4 linked regions of the Homo sapiens genome follow. The protein of the gene in region 1 interacts with the protein of each later gene in a pairwise test. Each region holds a gene or a part of one and is shown in the gene's direction. Other genes may lie near its edges. The genes, in order: SUSD3, SMAGP, TMED8 and TMEM182.

What was found.
Region 2: the proteins of SUSD3 (region 1) and SMAGP interact in binary tests that used the Homo sapiens proteins (3 or more experiments, as listed by UniProt).
Region 3: the proteins of SUSD3 (region 1) and TMED8 interact in binary tests that used the Homo sapiens proteins (3 or more experiments, as listed by UniProt).
Region 4: the proteins of SUSD3 (region 1) and TMEM182 interact in binary tests that used the Homo sapiens proteins (3 or more experiments, as listed by UniProt).

What each region holds. Positions count from the first base shown.
Region 1 is NC_000009.12:93,075,506-93,083,229, forward strand, and holds part of SUSD3 (sushi domain-containing protein 3), read left to right. Parts: intron 1-278; coding exon 279-467; intron 468-2,340; coding exon 2,341-2,488; intron 2,489-3,965; coding exon 3,966-4,097; intron 4,098-7,724. UniProt on the Homo sapiens protein: May play a role in breast tumorigenesis by promoting estrogen-dependent cell proliferation, cell-cell interactions and migration.
Region 2 is NC_000012.12:51,266,978-51,275,043, reverse strand, and holds the start of SMAGP (small cell adhesion glycoprotein), read left to right. Parts: upstream 1-4,628; 5' UTR 4,629-4,788; intron 4,789-4,833; exon of another isoform or gene 4,834-4,985; intron 4,986-5,727; 5' UTR 5,728-5,765; coding exon 5,766-5,799; intron 5,800-8,066. UniProt on the Homo sapiens protein: May play a role in epithelial cell-cell contacts. May play a role in tumor invasiveness and metastasis formation.
Region 3 is NC_000014.9:77,345,871-77,353,594, reverse strand, and holds part of TMED8 (protein TMED8), read left to right. Parts: intron 1-1,843; coding exon 1,844-1,922; intron 1,923-7,114; exon of another isoform or gene 7,115-7,116; coding exon 7,117-7,246; intron 7,247-7,724.
Region 4 is NC_000002.12:102,764,852-102,772,575, forward strand, and holds part of TMEM182 (transmembrane protein 182 isoform a precursor), read left to right. Parts: intron 1-7,724. UniProt on the Homo sapiens protein: Negatively regulates myogenesis and skeletal muscle regeneration via its association with ITGB1. Modulates ITGB1 activation by decreasing ITGB1-LAMB1 interaction and inhibiting ITGB1-mediated intracellular signaling during myogenesis.

The sequences.
Region 1 (7,724 bases):
TATGTTTGCTTTTATTGTCTTCTAACACTTATTTCTTTTTTTAATGCTCCAATCCTCAACATCTAGAGTGTACTTCATGGAGGGATCCAGCTCTGCGTTGTCCCCCGGTCTGGATGACCCCATGTGACCTCTAGAGCATCCAATGGCCTTTGGAGCTGCACCCCACCCCTGTGCTCCCCAATGCTGTGCCAGCTCCTCACTCCAGGGTCCTGCCCAGCCCTGCCCTGCGTGCCCACCCCCCCCCCCCCGCCATGCCTCATACCTGCCTGTCTCCCCAGGCACGTGCGCTAAGCTGCGGCTACCCCCGCAAGCAACCTTCCAAGTCCTTCGTGGCAATGGTGCTTCCGTGGGGACCGTGCTCATGTTCCGCTGCCCCTCCAACCACCAGATGGTGGGGTCTGGGCTCCTCACCTGCACCTGGAAGGGGAGCATCGCTGAGTGGTCTTCAGGGTCCCCAGTGTGCAAACGTAAGGACCCCTCTCTCAGCTCGGTGGCTCTGGGGGTGGGGGATGGCCCCAAATCCTGTCATGGGGATGGTGTGGGTGGGGATGGCGTGGGTGTCTACTCACAAGCAGCTAGGCCAGTGTGTAGGGTCCCATTCCCAACACTGACAGCTTGCTTACATGTCAGCAGCCGGCTGTAGGCCCTCAGCCCTCCCAGTGCCATGTTGGCAGCACGGACCGAAAACCTAGTAGCGGGCCTCCAATCCTGGCTCTGCTACCGACTCAGCCCCTCACCGCCAAGAGGCTGTGCATGCTCTCTGAGCCAGCACGTTTTCATCTGTTAAGCAGGAAACTATGTTTGTTCATTCATTCATTCATTCATTCATTCATTCATGTACAGGTGCACATGGCCAACTTTAATAGGATATTTCACGTATCAGGAATCTTAAGTACTGGCAACACGGAAGGTCATAACGTGCCTGGCCCTGGAGCTCCCAGTCTGTGGGAGGCAATGGTTTTCTGGTTGTATTTCTTGTACAGGTGTTGAAAGGTCCACAAGATAGTCCCTTTTCAGTGCCCAGCATGACATTTCCAAAATGAAGCTATGTGTGTTATGTTCATGTGTTTTGTGCATAAAAAGGGCTCAGAGTCAAAATAGTTTGGCAGATTCTGGGTTTTTATGCTGCAGAACTTCTCAGAGCCTTTAAAATGTTCACGTGCTAGGTGATTCTCTGAGGATGCGAGTGTTAGGATTAGATTCTGAAAGGCAGAAAACCCAAAATACTAGGATTAACTATGATGGAGCTCAACCTTCAGGGTGGGCAGGCAGATCTGTATAGGCTCCATGGCAGTGGGAGCCAGGCCCCTTCCCTGGCATGGCTCTGCTGGGCATGGCCTCAGCCTCATGATTCAAGATGGCAGCAGCTATGTTCCAGGCAGCTGTTATGGGGTGAGGGGCCCTGGGGCCAAAGAGCAGGCCCCAGTGTCTCAGGGAAGGTTCTTAGAAGTTGCCCCACATCACTTCTTATCTTCCACTGGCCAGAACATGGTCCTGTGACCACTGGGAAATGTAGTCTCCATTTTGGGTGGCCAGGATCCACTAGGGAGCATGGGAAATGGGGCAGGGGACAGGGCCATGTTCTCTACGTGGGGGAGTAAACGGTGTTGCTCAAATTAGGATTCCGAGGCCTTTTTTAGCCAGAACATCCAGTAGAATCTGATGGAACTAGTTTTTGGAGCATAGCTGAGGTCACACAGCAGATACATAGTATTTTGGACCTTCCTGGAAAGTGACCTGAGAAGGCATGTAGGCCCCCTGAAGAATGTTGCCACCTTGGGGCATTGTGAAAACCCAGACCATGGGCTGGGCAAGGCCTCCTCAGTACTGTCTATTGTCACCTCCTCTCTGTGGCCCACCCTTCCTTCATTCCTCAGGCAGGACTTCAGTGGGTAGGAGCCAAGGAGGCCATCACTCTGAACTCCCTGCCAGAACTTCTGTAATTGACCACTCTGCAGACTTCTACATACCCTACAAAACCCTGCTCAAATACCCTCTTCAGTTAGCCACTCTGCACACTCCTACACACCCTGGAAAACCCTGCTTAAATACCCCCTTTAAATAGCCACTCTGCATACTCCTACACACCCTGCTCAAATAACCTGCTTCTTGGGGAGAGTCTTCTCTGATAGTCCCACCTCCAAATATAGTTTGCACAGATCTTTGCCTCAGCCCCCAGCACCTCACTGCCCCCTTACCATGCAAACAGGGCTCACTGAGGGCTGCCCAGGCCCTGTCTACACCCAGGCCCTACCCGTACCACCCCTGAGACCCCCAACCCCTGGGCCAAGCAAATCTGGGCAAACCTCGCCCAGGAGCTGGTGGTTGTCTCCCACACAGTGGTGCCACCACACGAGACCTTTGGCTTCAAGGTGGCCGTGATCGCCTCCATTGTGAGCTGTGCCATCATCCTGCTCATGTCCATGGCCTTCCTCACCTGCTGCCTCCTCAAGTGCGTGAAGAAGAGCAAGCGGCGGCGCTCCAACAGGTACGGTGGCCTCATGATCTCAGGGTCCTCCCGGGAGGCGCCTCTTGGCACCATGGGAGGAGGAAAGGACAGAGTGTTTCAAGGGAACCCCGGCACTGCCCTCAGGGCACCCGTTCCTACCACTGCTGCTCTGGGCCTGCGTCTCCCCCCCAAGTGCTGCTCCCGGCCCACGCAGCAGCCAGGGGCAGCATCACAGCTGGGGGACATGTGGGCCCCCAAGGCCCTGCTCTTAGGCCAGGCTATGGGTTCACGGGGGATTATTTTATTTATTTATTTTTTTTGAGACGGAGTCTTGCTCTGTCACCCAGGCGACAGAGTACAGTAGCGTGATCTCAGCTCACTGCAACCTCCGCCTCCTGGGTTAAAGCAATTCTCCTGCCTCAGCCTTCCTAGAAGCTGGGATTATAGGTATGTACCACCACACTCGGCTAATTTTTTGTATTTTTAGTGGAGATGGGGTTTCACCATATTGGCCAGGCTGGTCTCAAACTCCTGACCTCTGGTGATCCGCCCAGTGATCTGCCTCCCAAAGTGCTGGGATTACAGGCGTGAGCCACCGCGCCCGGCCCGTTTTATTCTTAAACCTGCACACATATGCAGTATGTACTCTGCTGTGTTAACGGCCTGCAGGGCTGCCACACACGCCCCCTAAACCTTGAGAGGGAGTCACTGTCACTGCAGATGGAGGGCTGGTTAACCACAGCCCACCAGCGAAGTCCGGCTGTCTGTCAGGTTTTTTCCCCATGGTAATTTATTATTATTTTTTGTTTTTATTTTTTATTGTGGTAAAATATCAATACATAAAACTTAACCTTTTTTTTTTTGAGACGGAGTCTCACTCTGTCGCCCAGGCTGGAGTGCAGTGGCTCCATCTCAGCTCACTGCAAGCTCCACCTCCTGGGATCACGCCATTCTCCTGCCTCAGCCTCCCGAGTAGCTGGGACTACAAGCGCCCGCCACCATGCTCAGCTAATTTTTTTTTGTATTTTTAGTACAGACGGGGTTTCACCGTGTTAGCCAGGATGGTCTCGAGCTCCTGACCTCATGATCCACCTGCCACGGCCTCCCAAAGTGCTGGGATTACAGGCATGAGCCACTGCGCCTGGCCAAAACTTAACCTTTTTAACGTCTACAGTTCAGTAGCATTAAGTATGTTCACGATGTAGTGCAGCCATTAGCACTGTCCAGCCCTAGAACTTTCCACCACCTGTATTTGTAAGTAAAGTTTTATTGGAACACAGCCATGTTCATTGTCTACTGGTGTGTGGCTACTTTTGGGCTGCAATTGCAGAGTTTAGCTGTGGGAGAAATCATGTGTCTCACCACACCAAAAACATCCACTGCCCAGCTCTTTGAGAGGTTTGCCAGCCTGCACTGGTCCTGCAGACGGTGCCCTGGGCCTACATGGAGCCTGTTTCCACCACCGTCAGGGATACACCTGCATGCTCAGAGTCCTTCCTCCCAAACTCTCCTCCAGGTCAGCCCAGCTGTGGTCCCAGCTGAAAGATGAGGACTTGGAGACGGTGCAGGCCGCATACCTTGGCCTCAAGCACTTCAACAAACCCGTGAGCGGGCCCAGCCAGGCGCACGACAACCACAGCTTCACCACGTGAGCCCGGGTCTGGGTAGGGGACATGCTGGGGGACAAGGGGTCCAGCTTGGTCAGGCCCCGGGCCACCTGCTGCTCCCACACGCTGAGAGCCTGCTGCTCCCACACGCCTAGCCCACCCAGAACCTTAACTCCCATCTCTAAAACAAGAGGCTGGTGGTCCTTGTAGCACTCTGTCCTGACTCTGACATTCTAGGACTCAGAACTGCCCCCAGCAGTGTTTTCATCTGGAGGGTCCACCCTCCAGGGAAGCTGAAGCTTCTACACACCTGTGTTCCCTCCACCTACACCCAGCAGGGCTCTGCACTGAGCTGCAGTCACTTGCTCTCCCTCCCGTGCTCTGTCCCTCTCCTTTCTCTCTCTCTTAATACACACATACATTTTTTTGCCCTGAACCAATATAAGGACATTCTTTTTCTGAGTCCAGAAATTTAATACTGATTGGCCAGGCTTGGTGGCTCACACCTGTAATCCCAGCAGTTTGGGAGGCTGAGGTGGGAGGATCACCTGAGGTCAGGAGTTCGAGGCCAACATGGTGAAATCCCGTCTCTACTAAAAACACAAACATTACCTGGGTGTGGCGGAGTGTGCCTTTAATCCCAGCTACTTGGGAGGCAGAGACAGGAGAATCACTTGAACCCAGGAGGCGGAGCTTGTAGTGAGCCAAGGTTGTGCCACCGCACTCCAGCCTGGGCGACAGAGCGAGACTCCGTCTCAAAAAAAAAAAAAAAAAAAAAACAAAACTAACAGAAATCTAATATTGATTGCACGTGGCCTGTTGAGTGGAGAATGTCCATAATCACACGCAGCACTCAGCCACCAGGTCTCTGGGCTCCTTAAACTGGTATGGGCCTTCAGTTTTTCATGGCATAGTCTTCTGAGGGTTCCAGGCCAGTGGTCGCATGCAGAGGCTCCTGTCTGCGTCTGTCTGGTGTTTCTGTGTGACCAGGCCCGGCTCTGCATTTCTGGTGCAGGGCTACATGTGCAGATCACAGACATGGGCCAGGCTGCCCCCACGGGCCACATGGAATGGGGTCTCTTGGCTGAGGCGAAGCCCCCCAGGTCCCTCCACTGTCAGAGCCTGAGGAAGGGGCTCTGCAAGTGTCCCTCCACTGTCTCAGCGGCCTCTGACTTGTGGTCTCAGCGTGCAAGGCTGATCCTGCCAGATCCGCTCTTGCCTTGGGCATTACAGAATGGTGACTTTGTTAATTCTGTTGCACTTCTGACATTCCTTCTATCAGGGATGAGGATGAGCTGTTTTTTTCTTTCCTTTCTTTTGATTTTGTTTTGTTGTTTTAGCATCACATGAACTCATGAATATTCTTTTCTGAAACTTTTATTTTGGGAAAAGTTCACAAATACACAAAAGTAGAATATTGTCACAGATCTCCTGTCCCTGCCTCCCATTCTCATGGTCACCAGCTAAGCCAGGCAACCTCATTCATGCCCCTTCCCCCACATTATTTTCAAGCACACTTTTTGTGGGCTCCAGTTCTTGGCAGTAGGAGCTCTGCCAAGCCATGGCCTGTGTCCTTCTGATCCATCCCCATCAGTCTGTGAGTGCTTCCTGCCTTGCACAAGATGTTCCAGGCCCATCTCATGCTTTCTGTGCCCATCTCTGCGGTTGGCCACTGCTCTGGGAGCCCTGTTTCTGTGGGTGGAGAACAGCGCTTAGACACCGGGGTCTGGGCGGGCATCCAGACGACATCATTGAGCTTGTGTTCCCTTCCTTCAGGCCCTCCTGCTGGAGTCTTTCGAGGCTGCAGTGCACTTGGTCCCAGCCCTCATGGCCTCACTGTATGACTAACAGCTCCATGCCTCGGTTTCCTCACCTGTAAAGTGAGGATTGCAGTAGCGCTCACCCTTTCAAGTTGTTGAGGTTACCTGAGTCCGGGTGTGTGCCTCTCTCGCCAGGCCCAGGGTGAGAGCTCATTGAATACTGGCTGTTACTGTCGTTGCCACTCTTACGACCTTATGCAGATGGGGAAACTGAGGCACAGGAGATGGTGGTCTCTGTGGCCCTGGGTTACACACACCGTGCTGGGTCTGGCCAACACCTGCAGGGAAGGAATTCACCTTTCTGTCTCCTTTCCTGACGCTTCAAGTGTGTATTACATCAACAAGGATGTAGCCGAAATGCTGCCATTGATACTTCTGCACTTAGCAACACGTTCCAGGTCACCATGGTGGTCTGAGGCCTCCAGGCTATCATTCCTTACAGCAGCCCATTATTCCAAAGCTTCCAATATCTGCTAGACCCTCCCCTGTTGAGTGGTCAGGCGTGGTCAGTGTCTTTTTGCTTAGTGCTGTTTTTCTTTTTCAAGACCACAACTCTTGGGGCTGATCCTAGGAATCGATTGTTTAGGCCCAACAGTCTGAATATTTTATGACCACATTCTTTCCCTGGGAGCTCTGGTACAAGTGAATGTGGCCATATTTTTCTGGTAACTGCATCATCACTGAGTGCTGACCATTTGTTTATCATTTGTTTCTTACAGTAGCTACAAGTTGTGTGGGTAGTTTCCGTCAGCATTTCTTTGATGAATGTCGAGGAAGAATGTTTTCTCCAGCCTTGGCTCACCAGTGCCATTGCTGGCATGAGTCATTTTCTGTTTTCTCTGCTGAATTACCTCCAAATGTTTTGCTCCATGTGTTGTGGGAGGGCACCTGACCCATCAATTGGCTGTACATTTTTTAGGCCTCTTTCCTTTTTTTTTTTTTTTTTTTTTTTTTGAGGCGGAGTCTTGCTCTGTCGTCCAGGCTGGAGTTCAGTGGCGCGATCTCGGCTCACTGCAAGCTCCGCCTCCCGGGTTCACACCATTCTCCTGCCTCAGCCTCCCAAGTAGCTGGGACCACAGGTGTCCGCCACCATGCCCAGCTAATTTTTTGTATTTTTAGTAGAGACAGGGTTTCACTGTGTTAGCCAGGATGGTCTCGATCTCCTCACCTCGTGATCTGCCCACCTCGGCCTCCCAAAGTGCTGGGATTACAGGCGTGAGCCACCGTGCCTGACCCCCTTTCCTTTTTATTTTAGTTTTGTTGGGGCCATGGTGGCTAATGCCTTTCCTTTTGGGTAGTGAGATATCCAAAGCCACTTTCAGAGCTCCTCCATTGCCCCACCTGTGATCCCCACTCCCCATTACAGCACTGGGACCAGATCATCCTGTGTCATAACTGGGAAAGTGCCCATGGAATGGGGGAAGGAACAATTGCCTCTCAAGGCAACATGGTGTCCAGGATGATGGCAGCCACAGCTGCTGCCGCTGCCGCAGGGGCTTTGCTGGCCAGAGCATGATGCCGAGGGGCTCCCAGGGGTGCTGTTTGGGGCCACACTTCTGCCTGGTCCCAGCGCCACAGACCCTGCCTCTTACACTGCGGGAACTTGTGCAGTGTGTGGTCGGACGTGTGCGTCCCGTCCAAGAGTGGCCACAGATCTGTGTACAGGGCTGTGTTCACCCCCTCTGGGGAGTGAGAGAGCCAGGGCGGGAGGGAGGCACCCTGACAGGGCCGTGAGAGGCTGGAGGAGGCCGGCTTAGGGGCCACTCTGACAGTCAGCTCAAGAGGCAGGAAGTGGTGGTGAGGCTGAGGGGGATTGGGAGGGGGACCCTTAGGGCAGAGCCCCTTCCC
Region 2 (8,066 bases), on another chromosome or scaffold:
GAGCTCGAGACATGACATATCCAGATAAACAGCACACACACCAGAGAACACAATACGCACACTGCTTACAATAGTATTTATTTTACACCAAACTGGGTGCTGAGCATGTGCATATTGGATCTATTTTTCTGTATGACTACACTTTTAAAATGAGGTATGTTGGCTGGGAGCAGTGGCTCATGCCTATAATCCCAGCACTTTGGGAGGCCGAGGCAGGTGGATCACTCAAGGTCAGGAGTTTGAGACCAGCCTGGCCAACATGGTGAAACCCTGTCTCTACTAAAAATACAAAAGTTAGCCAGGCCTGGTGGTGTGGACCTGTAATCCCAGCTACTCCAGAGGCTAAGGCATGAGAATCACTTGAACCTGGGAGGCAGAGGTTGCAGTGAGCTGAGATGGAGCCACTGCACTCCAACCTGGACGACAGAGTGAGACTCCACCTCAAAAAATAAAATGAGGTATGTGACTACATAAAAAAATTAATAAATAATGTATCAGGCCAGGCGTGGTGGCTCATGCCTGTAATCCCAGCGCTTTGGGAGGCTGAGCCGGGTGGATCACCTGAGGTCAGGAGTTCGAGACCAGCCTGGCCAACATGGCGAAACTCTGTCTCTACTAAAAATACAAAAAATTATCCGGGCCTGATGGCAGACGCCTGTAATCCCAGCTATTTGGGAGGCTGAGGCAGAAGAATTGCTTGAACCCGGGAGGCGGAGGTTGCAGTGAGCCGATATCACGCCATTGCACTCCAGCCTGGGTGATAGAGCAAGACTCTTGTCTCCAAAAAAAAAAAAAAAAATCAAGTATCAGCAAACCTTCTAAGGTTACATTTTATTCATTTTTATTATTATTTTTTTTTGAGATGGAGTCTCACCCTGTTGCCAGACTGGAGTGCAGTGGTGTGATCTCTGCTCACTGAAACCTCCGCCTCCCAGGTTTAAGCGATTCTCCTGCCTCAGCGTCTTGAGCAGCTGGGATAACAGGCATGCGCCACCATGCTCGACTAATTTTTGTATTTTTATTAGAGTTGGGGTTTCACCATGTTGGCCAGGATGGTCTCGATCTCTCAACCTTGTGATCTGCCCGCCTCGGCCTCCCAAAGTGCTGGGATTACAGGCGTGAGCCACTGTGCCTGGCCTATTTTTATTTTTTTAATGTTTAATTTTTGTGGGTTCATAGGAGGTATATATATTTATGGGGTACATGAGTTTTTTTGTTTTTTTTTTTTTGAGACAGAGTCTTGCTCTGTTGCCCAGGCTGGAGTGCAGTGGCACAGTCTCAGCTCACTGCAAGCTCTGCCTCCCGGGTTCATGCCATTCTCCTGCCTCAGCCTCCCCAGTAGCTGGGACTACAGGTGCCTGCCACCACGCCTGCCTAATTTTTTGTATTTTTAGTAGAGACGGGGTTTCACCATGTTAGCCAGGATGGTCTTGATCTCCTGACTTTGTGATCCGCCTGCCAAAGTGCTGGGATTACAGGTGTGAGCCACCATGCCCGGCCTCATGAGATGTTTTGATATAAGCATGCAATGCATAATAAAATCATATCATGGAGAATGGAGTATCCATCCCCTTAAGCATTTATCTTTTGTGTTAAAAACAATCCAATTACACTATTTTAGTTATTTTTAAATGTACAATTAAGTTATTATTTATAGTCACCCTGTTGTGCTACCAAATAGTAGGTCTTAAGGTCTTATTCTTTTTTTTTTTTTTTTTGTACCCATTAATCATCCCCACCTCCCTCCCTAAGGTTACTTTTTTTTGGTTGAGGGGAAAGGATCTTGCTATATCTCCCAGGCTGGAGTGCAGCCTTCACCCCCAGGGCTCAAGTGATCCTCCCACCTCAGCCTCCTGACTAGCTGGGACCACAGGTGCATGCCACGACTCCTGTCTAACTTTTTTTGTATTTTGTAGAGACAGTGTTTCAACATGTTGCCCAGGCTGGTCTCAAACTCCTAGGCTTAAGTGATCTGCCCACTGTGGCCTCCCAAAGTGCTGGGATTATAGGTGTAAGGTTACTTGTTTTTTTTTTTTTTTGAGTCAGAGTCTCACTCTGTTGCCCAGGCTGGAGTGCGTTGGTGCAATCTCGGCTCACTGCAACCTCCACCTCCAGGGTGCAAAAAGGTTCTCCTGCCTCAGACTCCGAAGTAGCTGGGATTACAGGCTCCCGCCACCACACTCAGCTAATTTTTGTATTTTTAGTAGAGACGTGGTTTCGCCATGTTGGCCAGGCTGATCTCGAACTCCTGACCTCAGGTGATCTGCCTGCCTTGGCCTCCCAAAGTGCTGAGATTACAGGCGTGAGCCACTGCGCCCCACCAGTTACATTTTAAAGAGAAAAAAAAGATGCTTATTGAAAGAACATTACTAACAACTGTCGAAATTGTGAAAGTGACAGCAAATCAGTAGAGTCAGTCAGTTGAGCCAGATAGCCTCTGAGTCTGTAGTTCTTTTTTTCTTTTTTTTTTGTCGCCCAGGCTGGAGTGCAGTGGCACAATCTCGGCTCACTGCAACCTCCGCCTCCCGGGTTCAAGCGATTCTCCTGCCTCAGCCTCCCCATTAGCTCGGATTACAGGCGCCTGCCACCACGTCCAGCTAATTTTTATATTTTTAGTAGAGACAGGGTTTCACTGTGTTGGCCAGGCTGGTCTTGAACTCCTGACCTTGTGATCCACCCGCCTCGGCCTCCCAAAGTGCTGGGATTACAAGTGTGAGCCACCGCGCCTGGCTGAGTCTATAGTTCTAAACAATCTTCAACACATAATAGAAAATGTGAAAGAGACAGACCCAGGTCCAAGAACGATCTGAACTTCTCCTGGAATTCATGATCAAGGTGGACAGCTAGAAGTATGTCAATGCCAGCAATTGTCCTCCTTTGGATTTAGCCCTCTAGGATTTTAATTTCCTTTTCTCTTGGATATTCTCTTATCTAAGGACAAGCCAGGCTCACCTTTCTTTTATTAAGTTACATATGCATAGCTGGCATATCACTTTCTTTGCCTTTCTTGGTTGGATTGGCATTTTCCCATGCACATATTTACATATATTTCTCACAATATATTTATATAAAATGAATTTCATCACTTTTTTATTGTTTGTTTTCCTCCTGTATTTGTGTTTGTTTTTTTCTTTTGAGACGGAGTTTTGCTGTTGTTGCCCAGGCTGGAGTGCAATGGTGTGATCTCGCCTCACTGCAACCTCTGCCTCCCAGGTTCAAGCAATTCTCGTGCCTCAGCCTCCAGAGTAGCAGGGATTACAGGTGTGTGCCACCACGCCCAGCGGATTTTGTATTTTTAGTAGAGACAGGGTTTCACCTTGTTGGCCAGACTGGTCTCAAACTACTGACCTCAAGTGATCCACCCGCCTCCCAAAGTGCTGGGAGCCACAGTGCCCTGCCCTCTGGTTTCTTTTATAATGAACACTTTAGGAATAAAAGCAACTACTCTTGCTTTGCTTGTGACTTTGTTTTGTTTTCTCCCTTTATGCCTCTCTCCTCTGAGACCTTCCCTTTCGGTCTGTTCCCGGATTAACATGCACAATCTGATGATGCCTGTCTTTCTACAGAAAGTATTTCTGTATAAATACTGGTTTACAAACCTACAGAACGCCTAGGAGTGCGAAGTAAGCACAGAAGTCTATCACTGGGAGGGAAAGAATAATCACAAGGGTTCCAATCCTAAACGGGAAGCCAAGGTAACAAGACCTAGCGTTTATTGAGCACTTACTATGTGCCAGGCAAGGTTCTAATGCCTTACAGTACATATTTACTAACCTATTTCGTCCCAACAGTCACTCTATTCAGACAGGTATTGCCCCAGATAAGAGAAACGGAACAGAAGCAGCTTGTCCAAGATCACACAGCAGAGCTGATTCCAGTGCCTGCGCTATATACTATTACATCCTCTTAGTCACTGAATTCTTCTGATTAATTTGGGAACATTTCCTGCCACAAACGAGTGAGTCAAGAGGTAGCTAAAGCATGGCACTGATTATTCAAATTGAGGTGCTCACCATGCTTCTAGAACCATGGATATGAGATGGCTTTACAGGCATGATCACTTTCAGACCCGCATTTTAGGAATGAGGAAACAGATTTTCGAGATGTTAATTTGCCCAAAGTCACCCAGCTAGCAAGCAGAAGAGCTGGGGCTGTTTGAATCCAAAGTCCACGGCACTCCTAACCGCTGCTCAACGCTGCCCCACAAGAACGTCCAGCTGGCAAGACCCGGGTGGGGCTCGTTGCTCTCCCCGCTTCACCTCCCTGCTTCACGGCCGGGGGTGTGCTGGCTAAGTTCGCTCATCTGCCAAGCTTCAGGACACAGACCTATGTGAGCAAGCGATAAACAAATGCAAATAAATGTAACTTTCCACATTAGCTAAAAATTCAGAGAACGTCAAGCCCAGGGAAATGGGACGGATCCCAGTTAGCCCGCGGCTCCAATCTGGTCCCCCCCCAACCCCGAGCCTCGCGGCGAGAAAGGAAGCGGCTCCGGATGGAGAGTAAAGTGACAATCGGAGAAGGGCAGGCTGCCTTTCCTCCCGGGGGAGCCAAGGGGACCTGCAGAGGGCGGTTTCTCTCCGCTTTTCCTGTCCCACCCCGTCGGCCTGCCCCCCACCCCCTCCGGCCTCTGCGCCAACCCCGCGCGCCACCCGCGGCTTCCTCCGCTCGGGGTCCTCGTTCGGCCTCTGCTGGCCTCCGCGACTCCGCGGTGCCCGCCCCCGTTGAGTTCAAAAGGACGCGCGGAGCGGCGCCGGCCCTTCACCAGCAGCCCGTCCGACTGGAAAGGTGAGCACGAGGGAAGGGCGGGGGCGCCGGAGAGCCGGGTCGCCCACATTCGCCGCAGCCACCTCGGCCGTGGCAGGAACCGAAACCCGGAGCGGCCGAAGCTCAGCGCTCCGCTGGGGCAGAGGGTCGCGGCGGCTGGGAACGCCGCTCCCCGACGCACCGGCCGCCCCCAGCGCAGCGCGCTCCGCGGGGTGCTGGTAACGCGGGGGGCTCGGGGCGGGGGCGGGGACGGGGGCGGGGCCGCGGGGCGAGGACCAACCCAGCCCGTCGCGTCCACCCCGCGTTCGCAGGGGCGTCGAGGATCTCCGGGGCGCGGGGCGCGGGCTGGGGCCCAGTGAGGCTTGGCAGGCTGTGCGCGGACCGCGCCCTGGACGGCGAAAGCAGGCCCGGAGGGGGCGGCCAGTCCGGCGTCCCAGCGTCCGAGGCGAGCCAGAAGGCGGCCCACGGCCGTCGCCTCCCGGTCCCGGCCCGGCTACTGCGCTGCGCCCACTCCGCTCTGGAGCCTGGGCGCGGGTCCTGACCTTCCCGGCCCTCTCCTGACACCTGGTGGATGGCGTCACCAGAACTCCTAGCTGTGGAACCCTAGGGTACCTGTTACCGCGCTTTGGCGAAACTGGGTTCGCTGCTGATTTGCGAACCTTTGCCTGACTTTCTCAGGCCTTGAGAGATCTAAGTAAATTTGGTGGCCCATTGAAAGGACCTGGAGAGAGCGTATGAAGGTAACACCCCGTCAAACTGCATGCGGCCTCAGACCTGCTCCTGTGGAGAGCTGTTGGTACCTGGAGCCTGAGGAGATATTCAGGGAAACCAGAAGAGGACAAGAGAAAAAGGGGAAGGGACTTGGGAGAACCTGGCACCAGAGGCTTTCCTGGGACTTCCAGGACTCAAAGCCATAGGGGCCCACCCGCTACATTCCTGTCTTTGCCCCTCTTCCTACAGATCTGCCTCTTCTCCAAGAAACTCAACCACTAGTGACAATGACCAGCCTCCTGACTACTCCTTCTCCAAGAGGTAGGTGAAGGCCTTTCCTAATCCCAGTGAGAAAGAATTGTTCAACATCCCCTTCCCCAGACCAGTCCTGGAAGCCTCAGCCCAGGTGGGAAGACTCCCACCTCTCTCTGCCTGCCTCACACAGGAAGGGCCTGGGAGGAAGCAGGAACTAGAGTGTGCCCCTTAGTACGGTTTTAATCTGAAGTCACATGGACATGGTGACTTCACAAATCTTTGTAACCTCGGTTTATCAAATAATTTTATGTCGGTAATCCCAGGACTTTGGGAGACTGAGACAGGAGGATCTCTTGAGGCTAGGTGTTTGAGACCTGCCTGGGGAACATAGTGAGACCCCATTGCTAATTCAAAAGAAAGAAAGAGGCCGGGCGTGGTGGCTCATGCTTGTAATGCCAGCAGTTTGGGAGGTCGAGGTGGGCGGATCATCTGAGGTCAGGAGTTTGAGACCAGCCTGGCCAACATGGTGAAACTCCATCTCTACTAAAAATACAAAAAAATTAGCCAGGCGTGGTGGTGCACGCCTGTAATCCCAACTACTCAGGAGGCTGAGGCATGGGAATCGCTTGAACCTGGGAAGCACAGGTGAGCCGAGATCGTGCCATTGCACTCCAGCCTGGGCAACAAAGTGAGACCGGTCTCAAAAAATAGGAAGGGAGGGAGGAAAGGAAAGGAAGGAAGGAAGGAAGGAAGGAAGATTATTGTATAAGCCTAAAGGAAGGGCTTTACATTCATCTGTCTAATAATTTATAGCTATGGCAAAGAATGTAGCAGAAACCCTTGTAATTAAATGTGGAAAAGGAATCTTCAAAGATAACAGGGAAATCATTTTTTAAAAACCTGCTAAAGATAGTATTGCTAACCTCTAAGCTCCGGTTTCATCATTCACAAAATAGGGAAAATAGTACCTATCTTATGATTTATGAAGATTAAATGAGACAACCCATATAAAACACCTAGAAGAGTGTGTAGTATCTCGTAAGCACTCAGTCACGTTGGTTATTAGCACTGAGTACTTGTTAGAAACCCATCTTTCCCTTGAAAGTGATTTTGCTGGCTTTCTCATTCCACTCCTCTGGTGATACAGACCCAGCATCAAAACCCCATTGTTCCCTGAAGGTGTGCGGAGGCCGGGCACTACTGCTCAGCACTCTGAGAATGGATGCCCACCTTTTAGTTCATCATCAGGCTGGGCCGGACAAACTATCAGTTATTTATTGACTGTTTTCAGCATGTGCTAGTTAGGGAGAGAGAGGAACAAACCCTTGGTTGGTCTATACACCTTTGTCTTCCTATACACAGTCACATTTGTCATTAGGACAGGCATTCTCTGCTTTTACTGATGTGGAAACAGGTGAGTGACACCACCAGTGGAAGTCTAAGACAGTGTCCTCTGTGACTGGTAATGCACACAATTCAGACTTTTAGTTGTCTGGTGAGAAGAGATAAAAGAGAGAAATGGCCAGGTATGGTGGCTCACGCCTGTAATTCCAGCACTCTGGGAGGTTGAGGCAGGCAGACTGAGCTCAGGAGTTCGAGATCAGCCTGGGCAACATGGCGAAACCCCATCTCTACAAAAAAATTTAAAAATTAGCCGGGCTTGGTGGTAGACACCTGTGGTTCCAGCTACTCCAAAGGCTTAGGTGGGAGGATCCCTTGAGCCCAGGAGATGGAGGTTGCAATGAGCCGAGATCATGCCACTGCACTCCGGCCTAGGTGACAGAGCAAGACCCTGTCTTAAAAAAAAAAAAAAAGAGTTAGGGGGACACGGAGTGGGGGGGGGGAATAGGTCAGCAAAGGCTTCATGGGTGGGTGAGGAAGGGGATCTGAGTCTTGCCCTTGAAAGACGGACAAGGTTCATACAGGCAAAGGGGCGCAGCAGGTATCTTAGAGAAACGTAGAATACCTTTTTCGTGTGTACCTGCTCTAGATAAAGGTAGAATACCTCATACCATGTGTGAAGCTACAGAGACGATTTACCCTGGAGGATGTTCAGGAAGCGGGTGGGCAGAGGACCTCCAGAATAATCCTGCCCACAAGGGAAAAAAGGTGATACCTTGGCAGCTAGCTGAGGGATTAGAACCTTGGCAAGGGGGAGCTGTTTACATTTTTTAAATTTTATTATTATTATTTTTGAGACCAAGTCTTGCTGTGTCACCCAGGCTGGAGTACAGTGGCTTAATTTCGGTTCACTGCAACCTCCGCCCCCTGGGTTCAAGCAATTCTCCCACCTTAGTCTCCCTAGTAGCTGGAATTACAGGCGTGCGCTACCA
Region 3 (7,724 bases), on another chromosome or scaffold:
CCTGTGGTCCCAGCTACTCAGGAGGCTGAGGTGAGAGGATCGCTTGAACCTGGAAGGTTGAGGTTGCCAAGAGGCCGAGAGTCATAATTGTGTCACTGCACTCCAGCCTGGGTGATAGAGGGAGACCCTGTCCCCCTCCAAAAAAAAAAAAAAAACAAAGAAAAGAAAAGAAAAATAGATCTTGTTCACATATAAAACATGAGACTAAATTAAGCTTGGATTAAAAATTTTGCCTGTCATTTTCACTTTGAGTTTGCTACCAAACTCTGAAACTTTCAATGTTTGAAGTTTACTTAAGTTGCATTTTGTATTGAGAAGTAAACTTCAGTCTTCAGTGTCTTGTTGTCTTACACAGAGGGAGTTTAATGAGGGGCTGTCTAAATGCACTAAACCATATGCTATCTGGGTGTTCAAGGAAAGGCTAAATGAATAACCCACAAAACTAAGTAGCATCTGATGGTTAAGGGCACAACTGCCTGGGTTTGAATCCTGTCTCTATGCCTTAAGTTCCTTACTGCAAAAATGGCTGTGATAAGACCAGCCATACATAGGCTTCTTTTGAGCTTGAGAACATGGCCTTCATTATGCATTTCACCTATATACTCCTTGAGGGCACCTAGTTATTCAGTAAATCATTGGTAAATGAGTGATTGAATAAATAAATGAAAATACAAAAGTCCTTTACCTGACCTTGGGTACATTGATCTGAGCTTATTGAATGTAGAAGTGACACTTTATACTTTGATGCTAAATTCAGTTTATCTTACATCCCACTCTGCCCTCTATGTTCTGCCTAATTTAACCATCTGCTTTCTGAGGAATATGATTTCTTTCTTTTTATTAATTTTTTTTAATTGAGTTGGAGTCTCGCTCTGTCGCCCAGGCTGGAGTGCAGTGGTGTGATCTCAGCTCACTGCAACCTCCACCTCCTGGGTTCAAGTGACTCTCCTGCCTCAGCCTCCTGAGTAGCTGGGATTACAGCTGCGTGCCACCATGCCCGGCTAATTTTTATATTTTTAGTAGAGACATGGTTTCGCCATGTTGGCCAGGCTGGTCTCGAACTCCTGACCTCAAGTGATCCGCCCACCTCGGCCTCCCAAAGTGCTGGGATTACAAGTGTGAGCCACCGTGCCTGGCCCTATTTTTTTTTTAATTTTTAAAATTTATTATTATTATTTTTGAGACGGAGTTTTGCTGTTGTTGCCCAGGCTGGAGTGCAATGGTGTGATCTCTGCTCACTGCAACCTCCGCCTCCCGGGTTCAAGTGATTCTTCTGCCTCAGCCTACCAAGTAGCTAGGATTACAGGTGTGCACCATCATGCCTGGCTAATTTTGTATTTTTAGTAGAGATGGGGTTTCACTGTGTTGATCAGGCTGGTCTTGAACTCCTGACTCACCTCAGCCTCCCAAAGTGCTGGGATTACAGGCATGAACCACTGCATCTGGCCTTAATTTTTTTTAGAGACAGGGTCTTGCTCTGTTGCCCAGGCTGGTTTTGAACTCCTGGTCTCAAGCAATCCTCCTGCCTTGGCCTCCCAAAGTGTTGGGATTATAGGTGTGAGCCACTTCACCTGGCAGAAATATGATTCTTAAATTAGGATTAATTTTTGGAGCCTTGTTTTAGAAATGATTTATTTTTTATGAATGAGATATGACTGTCTGAGAATACTTGGATGTGATGACTTGAATAATTTATGTGTTGGGCCTCTGAGAGTATAAAGTTCATACCAGAATATTTTTGGGAAGAATTTGGTTGAAATTGCTAGATTTTTTTAAAGGTACAAGATAATTATGATTGTATTCCCTCTCAGATATTGAATTCTTTCTTTCTATGGTTTTCTAGAGAATGAAGATCTAGAAAACAAGGATACCTCTTTATTGGCTTCTGCCACCGATCCAGAACCCTGCTCCTCACCCCACAGGTAACCACTTTGGATAGAATGCTTTCACAGGTTTTATCTTCTGAGATGAGGAACTGGTGAAAGAAATAGGTAGTGACTTTAAGCGGGGAGGCAAGTTAAAGTAAAGAATGTGGGCCGGGCGCAGTGGCTCACGCCTGTAATCCCAGCACTTTGGGAGGCCAAGGCGGGTGGATCACGAGGTCAGGAGATCGAGACCATCCTGGCTAGCACAGTGAAACCCCGTCTCTACTAAAAATCCAAAAAAAAAAAAAAAAAAAAAAATTAGCGGGGCGTGGTGGCCAGACTACACGCCTGTAGTAGCTGGGACTACAGGCGCGCACCACCACGCCTGGCTAATTTTTGTATTTTTTAGTAGAGACGGGGTTTCATCATATTGGACAGGCTGGTCTCGAACTCCTGACCTTGTGATCCGCCCACCTCGGCCTCCCAAAGTGCTGGGATTACAGGCGTGAGCCACCGCGCCGGGCCAGGGATTTAATTTTTAACTTTTGTTTCTAACATTTGCTGAGTGAAGATAAAAATCCAGTGAATGTGATGCCTGAGGCTTACTTCTTATGCTTATGTGTCTATTGGAAATGGAAACGGCACAACTTTCTATCTTTTCTAGTGAGGCTGGCTTGCCGGCCAGGCTCTCCCCTTCCTTTGAGATGGCCTCCCTGCTCCAGGTCAGTACAAACCAGAAGCTTAAAGCGGAGGCTTTTCCTTTATGTGGCTTATCACCAGCATCAAATAATTTGAAATTAATCTTTCCCCAAATGCCCTTTTCTAATTCTCCAGAGCATAAAATGCTAATTGTGAATATTAAATTTATGTGGGTGGCACATATCCTGTTTAACATAATTTTATTATTTAATTATTTCTTGAGACAGAGTCTTGCTTTGTTGCCCAGGCTGGAGCACGGTAGGCAGTCATAACTCACTGCAGCCTCAAGCTCCTGGACCATGCAACCCTCCCATCTCAGCCTTGTGAGTAGCTAGGACCACAGGCATGAGCCACCACACCGAGCCTTAAAATATGTTTTTTAAATAAGCAGAACCATGTTTTTTCAGAGTAGCATGCACAAAGACAAAGAGACAATTTTAGATGTCACACACAGTAAGTCAAGCTAATGATTCAGATAGCCTGTTGTAGTCTCACCTTTCCAATATTATAAATGATAGTCTGATCCAGAATTTCTCTTTTATTCCCAGGCAAAAATTAACTTATTCATTTTTTATTCAACAAATATTTTGGGGCTAATATTTATTCAACAGATGTTTGTTGGGAGCCTACCATGTACCTGATACTGTTCTAGGTACTAAAGAAACCACAAATGAACAAAATAGTCCATCACTGCTCTCAGGGAGCTTATGTTCTAGTGGGGGAAGTGGACAGAAAACAATTACACATCATACTTCACAGACTCTTAAGTTGCCGTCAACTGTAAGTTGTGCTTTCACGTCCCACCAAGAGAGGAAGAAATGCTTAAGATGGATCATCTAATAGACCCCCCATATGCAACTGGGATACCAAAAACCTGCACCTTCAGTGAAAATATAAAGACAAAAATCCCCCACACAGAAAAGGACAGCAAGGAAGCTTGATTGTCTCAAACTTGACACTGTGTCATAGGAGGAAAAAATATCTCCCCTGAGAATAGGAACCACCAGTTGGTATTAGCCAGTGTCTTGTCTAAATTCACTCTGCCAGGAGGATTAAACAAAACCCTAAACAGAGAACTTAATTTCAAGAAGTCTCAGATTGGTAGCATTCCTAAGTACTGGCAGAAGCAAATGCAAATCTCTCGTGGAAAGAGTTGATGTCAATCCAGGCCCACGGCACTTTTAAGATATCATCAATTTTTAAGACATCCTATCTTTCAGTTGTGTTAAAATCTAAAAGCCAGTGTGCATCTTGCAATCAACAAAATATGCTCCATATCATGTCAGGCAGTAATAGGTGCAGTGAAGAAAAATGAAGCTGGGTAAGGGCAGAAACAGTGACAAGGCCAGGAAGGGGCACACATTTTATATACAGACCTCTGAGAAACCTCTCAGCAGAAAACCTGCAGGAAGGAAGTCTTCAGTTAACTAAAGAAGAGTTAATGTCCTAGAAGAGTATTCTAGGCAGAGATTACAGCAAATGCAAAAGCTCTCAAGTGGGAGAGTACTTGGGGTGTTTGAGGACTATCAAGGATTGAAGAGGCTGTTGTGGCTGGAGGGACCAGGGCAGAGTGAGGATTCTGAGAGGTGAGGTCAGAGTGCAAAGGGCCTTAGGGCTGGGCGAGGTGGCTCACGCCTGTAATCCCAGCACTTTGGGAGGCAGAGGCGGGTGGATCATCTGAGGTCAGAAGTTTGAGACCACCCTGGCCAACATGGTGAAACCCCGTCTCTATTAAAAATACAAAAAATTAGCCAGGCATGGTGGTGCACACCTGTAGTCCCAGCTACTCAGGAGGCTGAGGCAAGAGAATTGCTTGAACCAGGGAGGCAGAGTTGCAGTGAGCCGAGATCCGAGATCATGCCACTACACCCCAGCTTGGGCGACAGAGCAAGACTCTGTCTCCAAAAAAAAAAAAAAAAAAAAAGGGCCTTAGAGTTCCAGGTGGCAGGCTTGGTTCCCAGTGCTGTGCATACAGAGGCAGTGAGACCCAGTGCCTGCCACCAAGCTTACTTTCTAGTAGAGGAGGCAGATGATACACAGTGTCAAGAAACAGAAATGGACTATAATTTCTGGGTTGAAGAGCATTAAAATAGACCCACAGCCTAGGCCAGTTTACAGCTTACACTGAATTACCCAAGTGAACCTATAAAGATCAACAGAATCCCACAGCTCTGATTCTTGGAGTGACCTCCTCTTGTCTGTCCTGAGGTAGGTTGGAGTAATTTTGGATATTCCAAAAGATGGCTCTGTTTTATCTGAAGGAGTGATTCTTCTTGTTTATGTTAAAAAAGAAAAGAAACAAACTAATAAACTCTAAAATGAAGCCTCCGTTTCCCCCATGAGGTGTATACTACCATTTTCCAGTCATTTACTCAACCTCTTTGAGGAAATGATGCCCTCAAGCAGGGATTCTCAGACCTTTATACTCTTAAAAATTATTAAGGACCCAAAGAATTTTTGTTTGTGTGGGTTATATCTATCAATATTTACTATATTAGAAATTAAAACAGCCGGGCGCGGTGGCTCATGCCTGTAATCCCAGCACTTTGGGAGGCCAAGGTGGGTGGATCACGAGGTCAGGAGATCGAGACCATCCTGGCTAACATGGTGAAACCACGTCTCTACTAAAAATACAAAAAAATTAGCTGGGTGTGGTGGCCGGCGCCTGTAGTCCCAGCTACTCGGGAGGGTGAGGCAGGAGAACGGAGTGAACCCGGGAGGCGGAGCTTGAGTGAGCTGAGATCGCGCCACTGCACTCCAGCCTGGGCGACAGAGTGAGACTCCGTCTCAAAAAAAAAAAGAAATTAAAACTGAAAAATTAGAATATGGTTATTTGTTCATTTAAAAATAATAACTCATGACATGCTATATATAAAACATGTTTTTACTTAAAAACAACTAATTTTCAAAGCAAAGAATGTAGTACAAAGAGAGACATAAATCTCTTTAATGTTTGGCTTAATAAAAGGCAGTTGGATTCTCAGCTCTGCTTCTGAGTTCATTCTATTGCGGTATCACATGTCATATAGTCTCTGGAAAATTCCACTGCACACTCTTGAGAAAATGAGAATGAAAAAAGGGAAATAACATTTTAGTGTTATTATGAAACAGTTTGAACTTCATAGACTCCCCCGAAGGGCCCCTAGACCATACTTGGATAACTGCCATTCAAAAAAATCCATGTCACCTTTTATCAGCAACAGATTCCCAAAAGGCCTGGGTTATTTTGCTACAACCGTGGCACTAATTTTCTAGTTTTTGTGAGGCCAGGGGAAATGGAAGAGAGCATAAATCATTCCCTTGCATCTTTATAATCAACTATTCATGGCTGAGCACGGTGGCTCACGCCTGTAATCCTAGTACTTTGGGAGGCCGAGGCAGGCAGATCACCTGAGGTCGGGAGTTCAAGACCAGCCTGACCAACAACATGGAGAAACACTGTCTCTACTAAAAATACAAAATTAGCCGGGTGTCGTGGCACATGCCTGTGATCCCAGCTACTCGGGAGGCTGAGGCAGGAGAATTGCTTGAGGTTGTGGTGAGATGCATCACTGGTGCACTCTGCCAAAAAACAAACAACTATTCACATAGCTGTGTTTGAAGCCATTGGGATTGTTGATTAATGTGCTTTAAAAAGGAGAGAAAGTGATGACCCCTAGCACTGAACGGGGACAGGGTATGAAACGGATCTGCTGAAAGACTGCCTCAGGGATAACTGCAGAGAGGGTTGCCTTGATCATCATTTTGTACTTTGTTTTGGTGCCCAGTCTCCCTTAGGCAGACCTCCTCCTTTTGCTTCTAGCCAGTGGCTTTGTGTGTAGAACTGAACTGAGATTCTACCAATTCCTCGGTTAAAATTCTGTGGGCCCTGTGGGCCGCAGAGTGAGGAATAACATTGGAACTCACAGAAGCCGAGGGCAGGATGGTGGTTAATAGGTGTTGGGGCCAGGGGGTGGGATGGGGAGATGTTGGTCAAGTGGTATAAGGTGTTAGAAGGAGGAACAAGTTCTGGAGATCTTTGTACAACATGGTGACAATAGTTAATAACAATGTATACTTGAAAATTGCTAAGACAGTAGATTTTAAATGTTCTCACCACAAAAAGGAGTATGTGAGGGGATGGATATGTTAATTAGCTCAATTTAATCATTTTACAATGTGTACATATATCAAAACAGCACATTGTACACCATAAATATATACACTTTGTCAACTAAAATAAATAAATAAAAGAAACAACAATGACAAAAAAAAAAAAAAAAAAAAAAAACCAGACCAGCAGTCCATCTCAGATGATGGAGCTGTGTGTTTTCCATGGTTCTCCTAGCCTTTGACCTGGCCTTGTTAGTCTTTGTTTTCACACTGTCAACACTTTACTGTGGACCAATTCAGCCCTGGGCAGTGGTCGGCTAAGGTGACAGTAGAGCTAAATAAATGCCAGGGGCAGGTGGGGCAGGGGGTATCTCGAATGTTGTTTTATTTCAAAGTTTCTCCAGGATGATTGAGTCTTTTCAAAGAGTCCTTGAATTAACATGCTCTCTTCCTCTGAGAGGCCACAGATGGTATCTCCAGTGAGTAAGGATGCCACGGAAGATCTGCGGAAAGCAACTGGTCCTTTGGAGGCTCAGGCCTTGGTGAAACAGGATTTGCTGCCTGCAGACCAGGCCCAGGTCCTCAATGAGGTAGGGGGCAGATTCTGGCTCTTTCTTATGAAAGGAGGCACCAGAATGTGGACACATAGTGGTTGGGTTGGAATTAGAAAGCACTGCGAGGGTGGCTCCCGGAATTCTCTCTTTGCCCTCTAATTTAGGGCATCTTGGTCTTCATTATTTTTTGGAGAATGATTATTTGTATCTTCCACAGGGCCCATCATTGTACTGGCACCCAGTAGGCACCGATTCAGAAAACGAAGTGTTAGAGTGAATGTTCATGTGTTCTCTAAAATCCTCTTCATTGAGGAGCCTGAAGTCATTGGACTATTTTGCTCTTACTTTTCTTGTGGTAGATCTATTTAGTATTTATGATAAAGATTCCACAGAAGCTTTTTTTTTTTTTTTTTTTTGAGACAGGGTCTCCCTCTGTCGCCCAGGCTGGAGTGCAGTGGCACGATCTTGGCTCACTGCAACCTCCACCTCCTGGGTTCAAGTGATTGTCCCACCT
Region 4 (7,724 bases), on another chromosome or scaffold:
TATATGATATAAATATGTAATTATGCTACTATATTTATACAAAATGACTGAACTCTGTGTGTGTAATATCCCATAGGAGACAGACAGACAGATATCATTAACTTAAAATCACATTAAGAACATGAAATTTGTAATAACTTGCTAAGGGTTGATACAGACTATCAATGTCATATATAGAACAAAAAAGTGTTTTTCAAAAATAGTAGCTATTATATTTAATGTTCTCAATAAATTAATATTAGTCAGGGTTCTCCAGAAAAAAGAGAAACAATAGAACACATAAATATATATTATATACACACATACATGTATATACATATGCATGTGCACATACACATACACACATAGAGAGTGAGAGAGAGTGATTGTAAGGCCTGGTGAGTCTGAAATCTACAGGGCAATTGGCAGGCTGGAGATTCAGGTCAGAGCTGATGTTGCAATCTCCAGTCTGAAGGCTGGACACTCCAGTAGAATTTTTCTTCTGCAATCTGGAAGCTGACTTTCTTTTTCCTCAGGACACCTGTTTTTTCTCTTTAAATCTTCAACTGATTGGATGAGGCCCGCTCATAGTATGGGGTAGGGGGTAATCTGCTCTACTCAAAGTCAAGGGATTATAAAAGCTAATTGCATCTAAAAATACCTTCACAGCAATATTAAGCTGGTATTTGACCCAACAACTTGGCACCATAATCCAACCTAGTGGATATATAACAATAACCATCACAGAACTCAACACATCTTTACATGGAACTATTTTTCATCTTCCTGTTAAATATGTAATTCCATACATTATAATTTTTAGTTTTGTCAAAGAATGTAACATTTGCTTGTATTACATCATTAATAGGACACTTATAAAGAGGGTATGAGGTCTGGATAGGGAAAGAGGTGAGCTGACCCACAGCTGTGCTTGTCCACCAGGATTCCTTGGGTTCGAAGGACTGGGACCATTTTCCTTGAAAACATGTGTGGTATGGATGCTCCTTCCCATTAAAAACTGCAGAAGGCACCTCACTCACATTTGTCAAAACCTTTGTGTCATGTCTAATGGACTTAGAAGTATACAAGCCTACCTGTCACTAGTAAGGGAAGAGATGGATGGCATAGGAAAGAATAGGAGAAACTCTTTTGTTTTACAGACAAGCTAGAAAATGATGCTCCTTCCCCAACATTCTTACTTTTATAAAATGAACTGAAAAGTAATACAAGGTTGGCTTTCCAGAACATTAGGTATTAGCATAAATACTAGTATTGTTGTTATTCATATAATGAGGTCCTGTGATAAGATAGGTATTGTAGGCACTGTATATTTAAAAATGATCCCATATTTGAAAAGCCTGCACTTCAAGGAGATAGTGGAGAACTTGAAAAACAAAGTAACATAATCTGTGCATGATAATTATGATGGAGATGGATTGTAAATACATGTCAGAAAAATTATACTGCAGTTACACTTAAAATTATTATGTAGCACTGCATTTAATTAGTGTGTCACTTTTTTGATCTAGTGACAAAACCAAATCCAATTTTTTTAAATTATCAAATTCCTCATTGGCACACGTATTGGAACTCATTTACTTTCAGAAACTTTGTCAATCACTTTAGGTAGAAATGATTGAGATGTGCAAAGATGTGTTCTACAACAGAAATACTATACACAAGTTTCACTCATCTCCATAATAATATACAAGGAAATTTGATATTATCTTTGTTAAATTTGGGGTTTTTTTGTTTCTTTCCTGTATCCAAGAGAAAGGTATAGATTTCATTGGAAGCTTTGTACCTGACTTTTCAGTATGGTTTCCTAGTTAATGAGACTATGTATACTTCACTATGCTTTAGAGCTACTATTAAGTTTCATGTAGCTTCACAATTACCCAACATCAGATACTTGCCAGGTCACCTTTGGTAAATTGAAAGTATCATTTATAAATTCTGATGTATTGTGGCCTGGCAAATTGTTGGTGAAATGGCTTTATAGTGTCCTGAGTTTTTACAATTGCAGTTAGCCAATATTGAATTCAGTGAAAATAATATAGTGGTGTATGATTTTTCTGGAGTAACAATTTTAGAATTATAGGACACTACCGATGAAATTATCCTTTTATAATAAGGAGACTGGGAATCAGAGAAATCATGTGACTCTGTCTTCATACAGCTGCTTATTGGCAGAGCCAGTGCAAAGAACCAAGTCTCTGGCTTTTGTTTCATCGATAATCTACTAAACTACAATGAATGAAAAGGCTAATTGTAGTGCATACTATTAAAAATATGTCTTTAATTTGTATCTTAACAAAAGAACAAATTAAACTTACATTGGCTCTTTCTACCTTTATATTCAATTCTGACTTGTGTGTATGATCAGGTCTAATTCAGTGTTTTCTTTCTTTTAAAAGAATCTCAAATACATATTCTGAAATTCAATTATCCTCAAATCTAGTTATTTGAATGACTGGCCAGGCCTGGTGAGGGTGGTCTAATTCACAGAATTGCTTTTGAGGTAGGCTTGTGTACTTCTAAGTGCATTAAACAATTCTATTACCTTTGGAGAGTTGTCAGAGTCTAGATTTTCTGGTTTGTTTCATGTTTACATTCAGTCACAGTTCACTTGTTTGGTATCATTTGGCAACGATGTACTGAACATAAATGAATTTTCAAGACAATTCAACCCTGAGAGAATTAATTTTTTGCCTTCTCAGTGTCCCCATAGCCTTTGATGACCCCTCTATCAGAGTGCTCGTTATGCTTAACTGGAATTGTTTGTTTACTTCAGTTCCTTCATTATTTATTTGAGCTCTCCAAAGCATAGTTCCTGGTAATTACTAGATGCTTAAAAATATGTCTAGAATGACTTTATGCAAAATTACAGTTACTATTTTCTGCAATAAACTAGTTTGATTTTATTTTTCCAAGTGGAAATGTTTAGAAACTCAATTGCATACTTTTAGTTTCTTCTGAAGCAGAATGCAATGAACACAATTTCATCTTTTCTTGATGAGTGGGAACAAATATATACTTATGGGGGTGAGCCATCTGACCTTCTTTAAGGTCCTCCATCTCAGTATCTGTCCCCTTGCCCCAGGACCTGCCCTAAACTTCCCCAAATGCTGTTCCTCTCTTCCTTCCTCCTCCTCTGTTCATTTTTCTAACAGAGCGGGTTTATCTCCAGCTAGTTCAAACTTCAGTTTCCCAAGGAAGACTTCCTTACCTGCCCCTACGCCACTGGTACATGCACTGGGCCATGCTCTCCTTTATAAAACCCAGTCTTTAATTTGATAATTCATAGCACAGTTTTAAATTATTTACTCATGTAATTATCTTGTTCATATACTTTTTTTCTAGTTCAATTCTAAGCTCCATGAGAGTGGGAGTCTTGTATGTTTGACTCACTATTTTATCCACTGTAGACCAAAAGCTGAATGCATATTTTGGGGAGACTTCATTATTACACTGTACTGTGGTATTAATACTGATGCCCTAAGTCACTATTGATGTGCAGAATTTCTTTAGCTCTTTACTAAATGGACCTACACAACTCTTTAAAAAATTTGTTTGGCCAGGCATGGTAGCCAAAGTGTTGTAATCCCAACACTTTGGAAGGCTGAGGCGGGCAGATCACTTGAGGTCAGTTAGAGACCAGCCTGGCCAACATGGTGAAATCCTATCTGTACTAAAAAAAAAAAAAACACACACAAAAAAATTAGCCAGGAGGGGTGGTGCACATCTGCAATCCCAACTACTCAGGAGGCTGAGGCATGAGAATTGCTTGAACCTGGGAGGCGGAGGTTGCGATGAGCTGAGATCATGCCACTGCACTCCAGCCTGGGCAACAGAGCAAGACTCCATCTCAAAAAAAATTTATTTTTTTGCGTGCTTTTTGTAATTTTTGGTCTTCCACATTGTTTTCGCCTGCCAGCTGTGTTTTGCTTTTATTGTCAATGTTTATTTATCTAGTACTATTTTCTGGTCTTTTCTTCTTTCACCCTTATAGAAGTGTAAGCTGAAGTGAATGATGTGAGGCTACAAGCAGGGAGGCAGCGAGGCAAGATGTTAGTTGGCAATGCATTAGGCTGCAAGTAACAGAAAACAAAAAGGTTATTTTTCTCCTGGAACAAGAGGGTCAGAAGCAGCTTCCACAATGATGCTGCCAGGAACCCAGGCTCTGTCAACTGTTTCTTCTACCATCCTTGGGGGTGGACAGTCACCTTCATGCTCTTTCATCCTCAGAAAAGAGGAAGTGCTTCCAGAATTTAACAGTCAGTTTCTGCCAATGTTTTATTCATCAGAACAATGCCACATATCCCTCTGCTTGGGACATGTTGTTTTGGGCTGTCTAGCAACACAGAAGGGAAATGGAGAAAGCCTGGGAGTGAATGAAAATCAAAATCATTCAGTGAATCAGTATCATCAGGGGTTGAACAAAGGTGGGACAGTAAAAATGAAAAGGAAATAAAGAATATAATTGATATGTGAGGAGTTAACATGTAAAATTGGTAGCCAAACAAAAAAGAGCTGGAGGGATCAAGGATGATGAAGAAGTTTCCTTTTCAAATAGGTGTAATTCAGTTTAAATAACATACAGTAAAAAGTAATGTGGACACATACCTTCAAACAATAAGTATTATTTTAGTGGGTTTTTAATCCTTTTATATGCATATTATATTCTGTTTTAATCATCATAACTATACATGTCTATCTTGCTTTTCTGTTTTTATGTTAGCACACATTTCCCCATGTATTTACTTAGTGATTTCTCAAATTTTAAACATGTTGGTTGCTACCTCTGCATCAAAAATAATTCTATGTATGTAGCATTTTTTAATAATTTGTATTTACTCTTTGGGCTATATTTTCAGAAGTATGAATAGTGACTCAAAATATAGGAATAAGTTTTCTTTGGTGTTGTTATTGTGCCATACTATAAAATTGCTTGCCAACTGGTACTAAACTGTGAATTACTTTTGACTAAGAAAAGTTGGTAAGATGGACAGAAATCTGAGAGTTAAGAGGAGGGGGCATGTTTTGAAGTAGAGCATGGTGATTTACTTTGGTTTGGACGTATTAAACTTGAGTTGATGGTGGAATACCAGTTTGTAATAATCATTCAGCAAGTAGCTTGATATGCAAAACTGGTTTTCCTGAAAGTCATTAATTATAATCATTGATACTGATGAGAAATTGCAGAGGTGATTTTTGATTTCAAATATAATCTTTAAGGAAAACAATCATAGGAAAGAAGACAGTAAAATACCAATTATTCTTAGGGGAAGAAGGGAAGAAGAAAGACAGCCCACAAATGAGGGAGAGAAAGAAGCATTAAGAAACAAGTCAGCGAGCAGTCTGGTGCATTTTCTTGGGAAGGAGGCAGTGGTCTTCAATGTCAAACGCAGAATGAATGGACATGAGAAGCAGGCAGGAAGGAATTGGATCATAAGCCAATGATGCAAAAGTTCTTGGGGCCCAGTAGCTCCGTCTTCACCAAGGGCTCAGCTACAGACACCCATTAAAGTCTCCTTGTTCCAGGCACCTACTTCTATCCTAAATCCACCTGACACTTCCAGATCATCTGCTGTGTATCCCATCCCGGTTCACTGCTCATTCTCTTAGACAGGACCTGAGGACTCTGTCCTCTTTACCCTGCAATGCACTTCCTCCCTCAGGGATCCCATTCCATTTTCCTGCACATTTTGTCACCTGAGGATCCTCCTGAGAGCCAAACCCTACCTCAGGCTTCCTCCTTTCTTCTCTTCTCACAGGAAGAGAGGTTAGACAGCAGTGATCTCACAAAGGGGTTGTATCAGAATGATGGGAATGTGAAACCGCACACGGATGCTTGGGGAGTGAGCAGTGAGGAAGTAGAGACCTTTTCAATCAGCCAACACTGCGGCTTGGAATAGCCACCAACAGAGCACAGCATGGCAGAGGGTACAGAGTCCTTATAAAAACAGCCACATCCACACACAACAACTTGCTTTACCATGCAAGGCAAAATAAACTACAAACATGAATGTCCTTACATTTGGCAGTTTGAAACAGCACAGGAAGAATTAAGATTTGAGTCTAGAGTTTATAAAAATGTAAATTCTTAAATAATTTAGGAGGCACATCAACCTGTTGTAGGTATCTAATCTCATTGAGATACCCCCACCTCTGGCTTGCAGATCGATTACTCTGTGGTAGCTGGGTCTTATTTATCAGTTTTTTGGGTGTTCATGTATGGGGATTCTGGACATTGTCCTAAATACAGCAAATCACTCCAAATACTTCCACTGTGTTTTAGTTAGCTAGAAAAAACTATGCACCACAAAATGTAATGGAAAATGCAACTTAGCCTCCTTTTCCCATAAATGTCAAGTACTTAGATATTTGGAAATGCCTAACATCAACTTAATTTGCTGGTATTCGTTCAGACATTTGGGATCACACAGCCATCACCACAGACACAGTATCACGTTACAGGAGTGGCTGCAGTTCCTGAATAACAGCTGACTTTCATCTGGGACCCCAGCCCAGGCTCCATTGCATGCAGGCTTGGGGCCACTCCCAGAGTGGCTCACTGGGCTTCCACACACTCCAGCTCTTGAGGGTAGAGTTGGCTTGAAAGTTCTAGGGCACAACATCAAGGCCGTACTTAAAAATCACCTTTTTTCAGAGAGTGCCATTTTGTGTTCTGTACAATTTATTTGTGGGCTTCTGAGAATTGGTTGGCAGTTTATGTAATATCCCTGCAACGATGAGAGGCAATCGCTTTCTGAAAACAAGACCTGTGATTATCCCAGCAGCATGGCCTGGGTTCCCTTTGCAAAGGACAGGCTTCCACCTCCATGGAGGCTTCAGGAGATCCCTGAAAATGCCTTCCACACTTAGAAGCAGAAATCTCCTCTCACGCTAGGAACTCCTGATGTGTACAGCAGGATTTCTCAACCTTCACACTGTGGACATTGTGGGCCAGATAATTCTTTGTTGTGGGACTGTCCTGTGTATTGTGGGATGTTTAGTGGCACCCCTTTGCCTCTACCCAGTAGATCCCAGTTATGATAACTAAAAATGCCTCCAGACATTGCCAGGTGTCCTGGGTGTGGGTGGGCACAAAATCACCCTCTAATGAAAATCACTGAGGCCATCTAGACATTTAGTCCCAAAACTTCTAACCCAGGCCCAGGATCTTCTTTGAAATTATACTCATACTGCTTACACTGTGTGCTCAGCTCCAGGTCTGGGCCCAAACACACACAAGAATAGCTTCCTTCCACTGCCTTCTTTCATGCAGGGTATTCAAACCCCGAAGGAGAAAGGAGCTGTCTGGGCCTCTCTTATCTTGAAGCATTATGGCTTCTGCCTGAAACTTTGGACCTTTTCTTAGGAGAGAGCATCAACTAGAACCAGGGAAAAGCAATTATTGAGTGCCTGCTGTATACTGAGCACTGTTCTGGATGCTTCAGAATCAGCCCTAAATTCTTGCCCTCGTGGGGCTTTCATTATAGCGGGGAGGCTAAAAATAAACAATAAGTCAGTCAAGCACTTGGAAGAAAGTAAAAGATGAGAGGGGTGTGTGTGTATGGAGGGGACTTCCACACTGAGTAGGGTGACCAGGGAGGCCTCATGAACAGACGAGGTTTGTTTTGAGATAGACATCGCTGGGTTGAATGTGGGTCCTGCCATCCCATGAGCTATTTTGGAAGCTCCTCTAGTCCTTCTTTCGGGGACTAGATAGATGCTGTAGA